3 linked regions of the Homo sapiens genome follow. The protein of the gene in region 3 purifies or fractionates together with the protein of the main gene of each other region. This does not show direct contact. Each region holds a gene or a part of one and is shown on either strand. Other genes may lie near its edges.

What was found.
Region 1: the proteins of CABS1 (region 3) and ARG1 purify together in Homo sapiens (affinity purification with mass spectrometry; one large-scale study listed by BioGRID and IntAct). This does not show direct contact.
Region 2: the proteins of CABS1 (region 3) and TRAPPC10 purify together in Homo sapiens (affinity purification with mass spectrometry; 3 studies listed by BioGRID and IntAct, with this or other methods). This does not show direct contact.

What each region holds. Positions count from the first base shown.
Region 1 is NC_000006.12:131,576,119-131,579,773, reverse strand, and holds part of ARG1 (arginase-1), read right to left. Parts: intron 3,112-3,655; coding exon 3,039-3,111; intron 688-3,038; coding exon of another isoform or gene 664-687; coding exon 489-663; intron 1-488. UniProt on the Homo sapiens protein: Key element of the urea cycle converting L-arginine to urea and L-ornithine, which is further metabolized into metabolites proline and polyamides that drive collagen synthesis and bioenergetic pathways critical for cell proliferation, respectively; the urea cycle takes place primarily in the liver and, to a lesser extent, in the kidneys.
Region 2 is NC_000021.9:44,088,658-44,092,312, reverse strand, and holds part of TRAPPC10 (trafficking protein particle complex subunit 10), read right to left. Parts: intron 2,481-3,655; coding exon 2,380-2,480; intron 391-2,379; coding exon 264-390; intron 1-263. UniProt on the Homo sapiens protein: Specific subunit of the TRAPP (transport protein particle) II complex, a highly conserved vesicle tethering complex that functions in late Golgi trafficking as a membrane tether.
Region 3 is NC_000004.12:70,333,709-70,337,686, reverse strand, and holds CABS1 (calcium-binding and spermatid-specific protein 1), read right to left. Parts: upstream 2,707-3,978; 5' UTR 2,648-2,706; coding exon 1,460-2,647; 3' UTR 1,341-1,459; intron 722-1,340; 3' UTR 571-721; downstream 1-570.

The sequences.
Region 1 (3,655 bases), on a different chromosome or scaffold from region 3:
AGATTTTCAATTCTGGTTGAAATGGTTGCTAGAGAAGTACAATTACCACATTTTTTTTCTTGTGTGTGTGTGTCTGATGCTTTCAAAAATGTTATGATCATTACTTTTATAATGAAAAACACATGCTTTGAAATTGTTGACCTATATGAGTTGTATATATTATCGGCAATTAAGAACAAATAAGCTATGAATTGCCTCACATACTTATTTAGAAATGTAAGCTTGTGATGAATATTTAGATGAAATCCATTCATATTTCATACATTTTCTGCTGTACTAGGTCAAAATACAGATATTGTAAGACTTCAAATTGAGCGAAGTCTGTTTCTATAATAAAAGTAACCTATAAAATTTTTTTAAAGGCAGAAAATTTGATATAAAATATAGGTCAATGCTTTTCTGTCTATATTTCTAAATTTTCTCTCTTCTTATGGCCTTGGTTACTTCCTTTGTGCCAGATTCCCATAGACACAGTTATTCAACAAGACCTGTGGTCTCCGCCCAGCACCAGGCTGATTCTTCCGTTCTTCTTGACTTCTGCCACCTTGCCAGCCAGCTGCTCGCTTGCTTTTCCCACAGACCTTGGATTCTTCACAATTTGAAAGGGACTGTCATTAGGGATGTCAGCAAAGGGCAGGTCCCCATAATCCTTCACATCACACTCTAAAATTAAAAAGTTTTGAGTTACTAAATTAAAAAGTAGATTATAAATCAGTCTGTGTAGGATGATCTCAATTGTATAAAATAGGCATATATTCACAAGTATAAGCAAAGGAAAAACCTGAAAGGTCTGTAAATCTTGGGAAGGTAGACCCATGTCTGCTTTTGCTTGACGTCATGTTACCAGTATCACACACTGGTGCGGCTGTATACTGGGCTCTCAGTGAACACTTCTTGAATCCATCCAGTTAAACTAGACACCAAAATGTAACAGTGATAATCTTCTGGTTTGGGCTTAATAGGGAATGCCACTGTCTCTGTCTCTGTCTCTCTGTCTCTCTCTGCTTATGTGCTTTTTACCTTTCTATAGTAAGCATGCTTCATTTTGATAATAATTAAATACATATATATCGGTATATATATGTATTCTCAGAAAATTTAGAAAGCACTGGTGTATTTTCATCTGGAGATACACACACACACAGACACACAAAGTATCCATTGAACCTGCCTCATAGTGGTATTATCATAAATAAATAAGAATATGTGAATATGTACTTAGCACTGAGCCTAACACTTTGGAAGCTTCGGAAATAAAGCTTTTTAGTTATTCTTTTTAGTAAGGAAAAATTGCAGGTAACCCCAAATTCCTAAGGACTGGGTGTGCTCCCTAAAAGGCCTTGAATTAGGCTTGAAAAGTAGAGAGTGTCATGTAAAACTGTGATTCAGTTCGGTGTTCTGAACTAATTGGCCATTAAATATGGTATTTGTTACATGTCTGTGTGAATCTGATTTAGTAACGCCTCCAAGAAATTTCACCTGATACAACACGTGACCAAATTATGCTTGTCAGTTAAGGGACAAGTCCATTACCCAAGCATTCTGTTCTCTACTGGGTGTCTGTATTTGTCTTTTTTTTTTTTTTTTAAAGATTTACGAAGTGTAATTCTTGTTCACTAAAACTCACTAATTTTAACTGTGCGGGTCAATGAGTTTGAAAAATTCCATCCTGCCCCTTTAGAGGTAATTCTTGCCCCCAACCCCAGGAACTGCTGATCTGCTTTCTTTTGCTATGCTTTTGTCTTTCCAGAATGTCGTATCAGTGGAATCATACATGTAGTCTTTCTTGTCTTATCATGCTGCTTTTGAGATCTACCATGTTTTTGCCTGTGTTTGCGGTCCATTCCTTTTTCTTTTTTTTTTTTTTTTGGAGATGGAGTCTCGCTCTGTCGCCCAGGTTGGGGTGCAGTGGCGCAATCTCAGCTCACTGCAACCTCTGCCTCCGGGTTCAAGCCATTCTCCTGCCTCAGCCTCCCAAGTAGCTGGGACTACAGGCTCATGCCACCACGCCCAGCTATTTTTTTTTGTATTTTTACTAGAGAAGGGGTTTCACTGTGTTGCCCAGGCTGGTCTTGAACTCCTGAGCTCAGACAGTCCACCCACCTTGGCTTCCCAAAGTGATAGGATTACAGGCCTCAGCCACCGTGCCCGACCAGTCCATTCCTTTTTATTGTTGAATACTATCTCGTTGCATGGATGTGACACTTTTTGTTTAACCATCTACCAGTTGATGGGCATTTTGCTGTTTCCATTTTTTGGTTATTATAAATATGGCTGCCCCCAAACATTCAAGCACAAATCTCTTACCCAAGAGAAATGAAAACATATCCACACAAAGACTTGTACTTGAATGTTTGTAGTTGTACTTCTCTGCACCCAGGAGTAGAACTGCTGGGTCAAAATGTAAATATATGTTTACCTGAGAAACTGCCCACCTACTTTCAAAGTGGCTGTATCATTTGCATTCCCATCAGAAATATATGAGGGTTCCAGTTTCTCCACATCCTGACCAACACTTTATCAGAATCTTATATGTAAAGGTAACAGAAAATTGAGCCCATACTTTAAAAATATACGTAAATTTGCATTTGCATGCTTATGTATATGTATGTATATATACACACTGCGCCCACACTAGGCGCTGTTGTTATTATCATTATTACTGTTTTATTTTATTTTATTTCACAAATAGGGGTCCTCTTGCTAGTAGCATACTTCCTGCTGCACCTTGCCTTCCATTTGCTGTTCCCCCGGCTCCCCTACCATCCACCCCAACCCCCGTTCTTGCACACACAATTTATCTTATACTGTAGTTTGGCTGGAAAGACAAAATATCTGAGTGAGGATGTACATCCAGCAATGTTTCCTGAGCATTCTCCCCATGCCCTGCTGCTTTTGTAGGATGTGTTTCTCGGGTTGTAACCAGTACCGCAATTCTGATGTAAATATTCCAGACACACTCCAGGTTCACAGGGGCCTGCTCTTTCCTTCAGAGTGGGGAGGAAATCAGGCTGATCATTTTTCAACTTAAAAATTACCTTGTTCTTTAAGTTTCTCAAGCAGACCAGCCTTTCTCAATACTGTAGGGCCTTCTTCCACCCCTCCTCGTGGCTGAACAATTAAAAAATAAAGTACTTCAGACATTATCATGACCATCAGATGCTCACAGCAGGAACCCTTTTCATTATTTAATCAGTTGAACTGTAACTATCATTTTTTGAGCTCCTACAGAGCCAGGAATTTACATCATCTCTTTTAATCTTCACAGCAAGGTAGACTGAATGACTTTTATGCCAAATAGAAAGAACTAGAATCACAAAGGTTATATGGTTTTCAGACTGGCACACAGCTAATAAGTGGCAGAGCCTATGTTCATATTCAGGTCTTTGGATTCCAAAACCTACATCCCCTCTTCCCGTCAAACCATGTTATCAACACAGTGAACAAGTAGTTTGTGCAAAAGCAGTCTGGTAGATGAGATCCAATAATGAAAAGGCTTTTGACTTTGAGTCCCTCATAAGCTGATAGGAGATATGGGCATTTAACTCCAGTTTCAATACATAGCTGCTTCAGTGATGATATAAAATGTCCTAGTAACAAAAACAGGATGCCCTTAACACTGTTGGGGACAGGGTGTGTCAGTAAAGGCTGCAAG
Region 2 (3,655 bases), on a different chromosome or scaffold from region 3:
ATCTGCACACGTCTACGCATAGAGTGGGACCAGTTTCAGATTTAATTCTTCTAAAAAGAAGAATTCATCCATCCAGCCACCCGCTTACTCAGGAGCAAGCCTCGATCCAGCCTCAGGGCAGCCGGAGGAGCTGCACAGGAGCCTTTACTCATCAGCAGTGCAGCTGTTCTATCTAAAGGCTCAGTCGCAACACATACTACATCATTTCCGTACACTCTGGTTCTCTGTTGAGAAGTTTATGCTCAGGTCTACACAATGTTTACCTGCTGGGACTGCGTGTTCAGTGGTACTAGTTGCAGGTCGGTACTATCACCGGTATCTACAAGATAACTATCTGACAGCTGAAAGTCAAGTTCTGACAAATTCTGGACACAAACTTGAACATATTTCCTAAAGTGGAAAAACAAAAAGTATTATTTTGATATGTAAGAACTTTATTAAATATATCTTAGCTTTGTTAAGGAGACCCTCTCTGCCTGGGGAATCAAAAAAGCAACAAAGCAAAGTAAGCTAAGTTGTTGCATAAGTTTCCCTTCAGATTTCACACCGAAAAGTGCCAGAAAATAAACCTTTTTGGCCGGGCACGGTGGCTCACGCCTGTAATCCCAGCACTTTGGGAGGCCGAGGTGGGCAGATTATGAGGTCAGGAGATTGAGACCATCCTGGCCAACATGGTGAAACCCCATCTCTACTAAAAATATAAAAATTAGCCAGACGTGGTGGCACGTGTCTGTAATCCCAGCTGCTCGGGAGGCTGAGGCACGAGCATTGCTTGAACCTGGGAGGTGGAGGTTGCAGTGAGCTGAGATCACGCCACTGCACTCCAGCCTGGTGACAGGGCGAGACTCCATCTCAAAAAAATAACAAATAAAAATAAATAAAAAAAGTTTTTAAAGAGGCAAGTTCTGTGAGGCAATGGAAGAAAGAATATAGTTTCTGACCAGCCTTATTAAGTGATCATGGCTGGTCACCCTCACTGGCCTTTGGGGAGCCACGGGGAGACAGCAGCAGCCCTCCTCATTACAGGTGAAGACTCTCCATTGAGAGATGATAGGCGGGGCTTATATCCATTTCCATTACATGCAAAACTTTGAAAATATTAATAATAGTTACTATTTTTTGAGACAGAGTCTTGCTCTTGTCGCCCAGGCTGGGGTGCAATGGCACGATCTCAGCTCACTGCAACCTCTGCCTCCCAGGTTCAAGTGATTCTCCTGCCTCAGCCTCCCGAGTAGCTGGGATTACAGGCGCCCGCCACCATGCCCGGCTAATTTTTGTATTTTTAGTAGAGACGGGGTTTCACTATGTTGGTCAGGCTGGTCTTGAACTCCCGACCTCGTGATCCGCCTGCCTCGGCCTCCCAAAGTGCTGGGATTACAGGCATGAGCCACCACGCCCGGCTGAAAAATAATTTTTTAATAAGGTTCTTTTAGAGATTATTGATGTTTTTAACTATTAATATCTACAGTTCCCTTTGCTGTGATTTGAAGGGGAAAAAAGCTGCTAGTATAATGTTCCATTCTAAACATGGGTCTGACGTTTTTGTTTCCAAATTATCCACACATCATCAATGGATAAAAAGTTGTGGTGAGAGGCCAGGCTAGCATCCCGAGCCCATTGATCAACGCTAGCACCGTCACTAAGGTAGGACACCTGGACACCGTGGGCCTCCCGGTGCAGTCAACAGGAAGCACACAGCCCCGCCTGCCTCAAAGCAGAACTGGAGTCTACTCAAGCCTTTAGGGCAGCTGTTTTCCACTGGGGCACGTCCGCCCCACCCAGAGGACACTGGGCAGTGTCTACAGACATCTGTGGCTGCCACACCTGCAGGTGGGGAGTGCTACTGGCATCTCATGGGAGAGCCTGGGGTGCTGCTCAACACCCTACAGCACACAGGAAAGCCCCTACAACAGAGTTATCTAGCCCAAAATGTCACTAATGCTGAGCTTAAAAGCTCCTGTTCTAGAGGTTGCAGGCAATTGACAAGAAATACAGGGACAGGAGAACTAGTTAACAAATCCAGCCAGATCCAGAAAGGCGGGCGTCCAGAGGAAACCTGGCCTGCAAGTGAACAAGTCGATGGCTTGAAAACAGGGAAGAAAGGATGAACAGAGATCTAGTGGTCTGATGGAGATTTTGGACCCCAAGTCACACAAAGCAACCATAAAAGGTCATTTTCAGACAGTTGGGAAAACCTGAATATGAACTGGATGTCACAGGACACCAGGGAATTGTGGATTTTAAGACACAAACAATGGCCTTGTGGTCACATAAGAAGACATCCTTGGTCACCACGAAGGCCAGTTTTGAACATTAGGAACCTCCACTTAGAAGAGTCTGGGGAAAGAAGCCAGGGCCCGCACGCTACGCCTCCGTTACCGTGTTCCTGAGGACAGGAGGCTGTGTGTGGTCCTGAAGGGTACGCTGAAGGTCAGTGCGATGACTGTGGAGTAGATGGACCACGGGCAGTCAATCGACACCTGAGGAGGAAGCACAAAGACACTCTCAGACCACTCGCCGACGGACAGCACAGCCACCACCACTGCTGCCCAGACTCACCTGCAGTGCCCGCCCACGCCCTAGACATTTTATTATGGCTTCAACCACTCATTATCCAGGAAGCAAAGCCTTACCCAACACATACACAAACCAACGAGAAACAGGAAGCTATGCATACAGACAAGAGAAACGAACGCAGAACTGGCAAGACATGCACACATCACCAGAGTCACCTCAACGGCGGAAGAGCACAGCCGTCCTCTAAGCAGCAGACCCACCTGCTGCTCCCATACACGCAGGGCCGCGGAGCCATGCATGTTGCAATGTGCACAGGGTTTTGACAAAGTGCTTTCAGTCATGTATTTCCAGATGACATTAGCCAATCAGTAACTACTCCATAGTTAATGAATTATCTAAGCATTTAATCCATGTGAGGCTGAATATGTAACTGAAAACCAAATCAGTTTAGGGGCACAGTGAGGACAAAGCTATTACATCCCTTAAGGGCAGGAAGGAAGCAAGTCTCAAGCCTTATTCCCCACAGGGAAGAGGTGAATACCCCAGCACACAGCGTGCGTGCCGCCAGTGCCAGGGAAGAGAGGATAACACGGCACATAGCACAGGTGCCACCAGCGCCAGGGAAGAGAGGATAACACAGCACACAGCACAGGTGCCACCAGCGCCAGGGAAGAGAGGATAACACGGCACATAGCACAGGTGCCACCAGCGCCAGGGAAGAGAGGATAACACGGCACATAGCACAGGTGCCACCAGCGCCAGGGAAGAGCGGGGTAACACGGCACACAGCACAGGTGCCGCCAGTGCCAGGGAAAAGAGGATAACACGGCACACAGCACAGGTGCCGCCAGCGCCAGAGAAGAGTGGGATAACACGGCACACAGCACAGGTGCCGCCAGCGCCAGGGAAGAGAGGATAACACGGCACATAGCACAGGTGCCGCCAGTGTCAGGGAAGAGTGGGATAACATGGCACACAGCACAGGTGCCGCCAGCGCCAGGGAAGAGTGGGATAACACGGCACACAGCACAGGTGCCACCAGCGCCAGGGAAGAGCGGGATAACACGGCACATAGCACAGGTGCCACCAGTGCTGCGCGCTCCTGCTGAGCTAAGCGCCACCTTCGTGAATGGTGAAC
Region 3 (3,978 bases):
TTATCACCTTTTCATATATGCTTACATTTCTCAGGTCCATTTGGATAGATATACAGGTACATTTCCTCCTAAGTTTTTGTATGGTTTTAGTTTTTACATTAAAGTATTTAATCCATGTAGAATTTATTTTAAAGTATGGTCTTAAAAAGAATTTAAAAATTTGTTTATTATTCCAACATATTTTTTTCCCAAATACTGATTGTTCAAGTAAGATTAACTATTATATCCCATGTTTTTGAAGTCCACTTCACTGTATAACAAATTTTTGTTTCGTAATTTGTTTCTGGGTTTTAACACACTGTTGTGATTATTCTAGTCTATAGTTTATCTAATGGTGCAAATCCCTATACAAACCCCCCGTACATAATATCTTTCATTCACTTGGTGTTTTGGCATTGTTCTTATTTCTTTTTTTAGTGTAATACAATTATGAATCTCTATAGAATAATTTTACTTCTGGGGATTAGAGCTATATTATTCTTTAAACAAACAATGAATTTTCATTTCTCTTTATTTCTCCTAATTTGAGAAGTCTGTAGTAGAATATCAAACACACCTACACACAGTAAATCAGTTGCTTGCCAAAAAGATTTATTGAAGAAAAATGAGCAAAGTGAAAACAGACCCATTTAAGTAGTCTGTGCCAGAAAAGAATGAAGATTTATGTCCTTGAATCGCTAACAAGAGTCATAAGAAGAGTGTGATATTCAGTGTTTAAGACCTGGAAAACATGGACAAAAATTCAGAAAACACATTTTAACAGAAAGAAAATTAAATTGATGTATATGTTTACAGAACATTTTTCTGACAAATATGCATATTTGTAAAATATCATTTTGCTTTAGTTTGTATCTAACATGTGCCAAGAACCCTATCATAAATCTTATGTATCTTACATGTGGGTGCTAAACAATTACTGAATTGTCTTAATTCTTATATGAGGATTAAAAATTTTTTAAATAGAAGAGAATCACTGATGAAATACTAATGAAAAAATTGCTTAGAACAAGCATTTTGGGAGAACTTTTTAGGCTATGGTAATGTTTTGGAGAGGTTAATTTGCTTCTCTTCATATCCTTAATTCTCACTTAAGTATAATATTGACTGTTAACTAAATGATATGCATCATTAAATGTTGTAGAAATGAGCCCCTACATTGCTCTGTCTTCATACTCCCTGAAGGCTAGGACGAAAAATTTTACATTAAGTAATTGTTAGAATATTGAAACTTTGTGATACTAGGGGGACCCTTACACTGCGGTTTTTTTTTCTAAGTTTCCGTAAATCTGTTACATGACCTGTAGTCCTAAGCATCTGCATTTATTGAGTCGAATACTTGCCTTAAATGCCCACATTCTTTCATTTCTAAAGGTTTTTGCTTGTTGGAAAAATTTCTTAGATGTTAAGGCTAGCTGGCTAGACTATTGCACAATTCTACATGGTATCCCTTTTGTTGCTTTTAAATCATGAACTCATCGGGTTCTTCTTTCAGTAGTTCAAAGATATCCGTTTCAGTTGTGGAGGTGTCTTCCTTATAGTCTGGGGTATCTAATACAGAGGTAGTTCCAGAAAATGGCTCAGTGATCTTAGGTACAGTCTCTGTATTATCAGTTTCAGACAAATCTTCTTCTGTAGATGATTCTTCCACTAGGTTTGTAGCTATTGATGCAGGGACAACGAAGTCATATCTGGATTCAACAGCAGTAAGCAAAACAGAATGGGTCTCTGCTTCATTTGCAGTATCTCTCTCCATCCAAATACTGGCTCCCTCGGTAGTTTCTTCATCAGTTAGCAGAGTATCTTCCCGTTTATCTTTGTCTTTTTCAGCAGAGGTAGTGAGTTCAAACACAGTGATAAACTTCTCATCAGAGTCAGTTAATGTAGCCACAGCACTGGTGTCATCTTCTAAAACACTTAGGTCAATTTCGGTTATTTTCTCTTCTTCAAGGGCAGTTATGTCTGGAATAGTAGTGAAGCTTTCTTCAGGAGCAGGAGGGATTTCAGCCTCAGGAATAGTGGAATCAGTGACCTGGACAGCCTCATCAGCAGGGACATTGGATTTGATGGAGGAATTATAATTGCTCATATCAGCTTCATCCTTTTTACGTGGAAAGGCAGGAGCGTCAGCAACACCAGCACTGCTGTCCTTTAGTGTGCCAGAGACTTCAGAGGTTATTGAGATCTCTGCATCTCCTGTGTCAATGGTAGCTAAGAGGATATCTTCTTTTGCTATGTCAGTGGAAAAATCTATTAAAGAAACAGTAGTAACTGGTGATGAAATATTCCCAATTTTCACTGGCATGAAATGTTCGGTAATAGAGTCTCTTGTTATGGAGTTTGTAGTGCCAGTCAGAGAGGTAATTTCTTTCTGTAGGTGAGTTGTTGACTTAATAAAGTCGGTCCCCATATCATCTTCTGATTTGAGTTTTTCCTTTTTAGCTGTCAGTTTGTTGTCTGTAGTTGTTGAAAAATCGCTTTCTAGCATATATTCATTTACTGAAGTGACGTGGTCTCCTTCTGAAGTAATAGTTGTTTCTGATTTGGGAATAGCATTGTCAGCCCCAAAGAAAATGGTTGCTGCAGTTGGTGTTTTACTGCTTTCTGTTGGAGGATGAGAATAAATTTTGGGCAAACCATCTTCAGCCATGGGGCGAAGTGGCACTGTGCACTCTCACAGGTCTTGCTTCTGGACTCAGTGGTATCTCTAGGCAGGAGAGCAGTGTTCATCAGAGTGATTAAAGCTTGGGTCATCATGGTGATTGTTGCATCAACTATGGGAGCAATGTCACTGGGTCTCCTTGGAGGTTGTTTCTAGGCTGCGATTGGTTATCTAATTGCAGGAATATTGAATGAAAAGACTATAGAGTCCGCTCTGATTATGAAATCAAATTCACAGCCAAGCATTTCAATTGCAGGGAACTTAAGATTTACCATGTTTCTGTTTATAAGGAAAATGTCTCCTGATATAGAGCTAGGGTTACTTGAAACAGACATAGCAGAGACTGCCAGGCACCTTTTGGGTTTAGAATTAGTAAGGAAAACTTTGGAAGCCACAAGTTTATCAGCATCAGCTTAAAGTCGTCTATCTTCCAAGCAAGTAACAGAGTATTTTTGAGGTGAAGCCATTTTCCCTTAAGATTCATAGTATTAAAAAAAATTGGTATCTAAAAAAATTAATGGTGTTTTTGTCAGTAAGTATAGCTACAGAAGGTAATTAGGTAGCAGGGAATTCAGTTAGTTCCCTTATTCATAACAGGAAGTCCCACTTTTTCAGTAGAGATAATAACTAATAGTTATTGGCCTGTTTGGGTCTTTTTTTTTTTTTTTTCTTTTTTTGTTTTTTGTTTTTTTTTTTTTCATTTATTTTTATTTTATTTTATTTTATTTTTTTTATTATACTCTAAGTTTTAGGGTACATGTGCACATTGTGCAGGTTAGTTACATATGTATACATGTGCCATGCTGGTGCGCTGCACCCACTAATGTGTCATCTAGCATTAGGTATATCTCCCAATACTATCCCTCCCCCCTCCCCCAACCCCACCACAGTCCCCAGAGTGTGATATTCCCCTTCCTGTGTCCATGTGATCTCATTGTTCAATTCCCATCTATGAGTGAGAATATGCGGTGTTTGGTTTTTTGTTCTTGCGATAGTTTACTGAGAATGATGGTTTCCAATTTCATCCATGTCCCTACAAAGGATATGAACTCATCATTTTTTATGGCTGCATAGTATTCCATGGTGTATATGTGCCACATTTTCTTAATCCAGTCTATCATTGTTGGACATTTGGGTTGGTTCCAAGTCTTTGCTATTGTGAATAGTGCCGCAATAAACATACGTGTGCATGTGTCTTTATAGCAGCATGATTTATACTCATTTGGGTATATACCCAGTAATGGGATGGCTGGGTCAAATGGTATTTCTAGTTCTAGATCCCTGAGGAATCGCCACACTGACTTCCACAATGGTTGAAC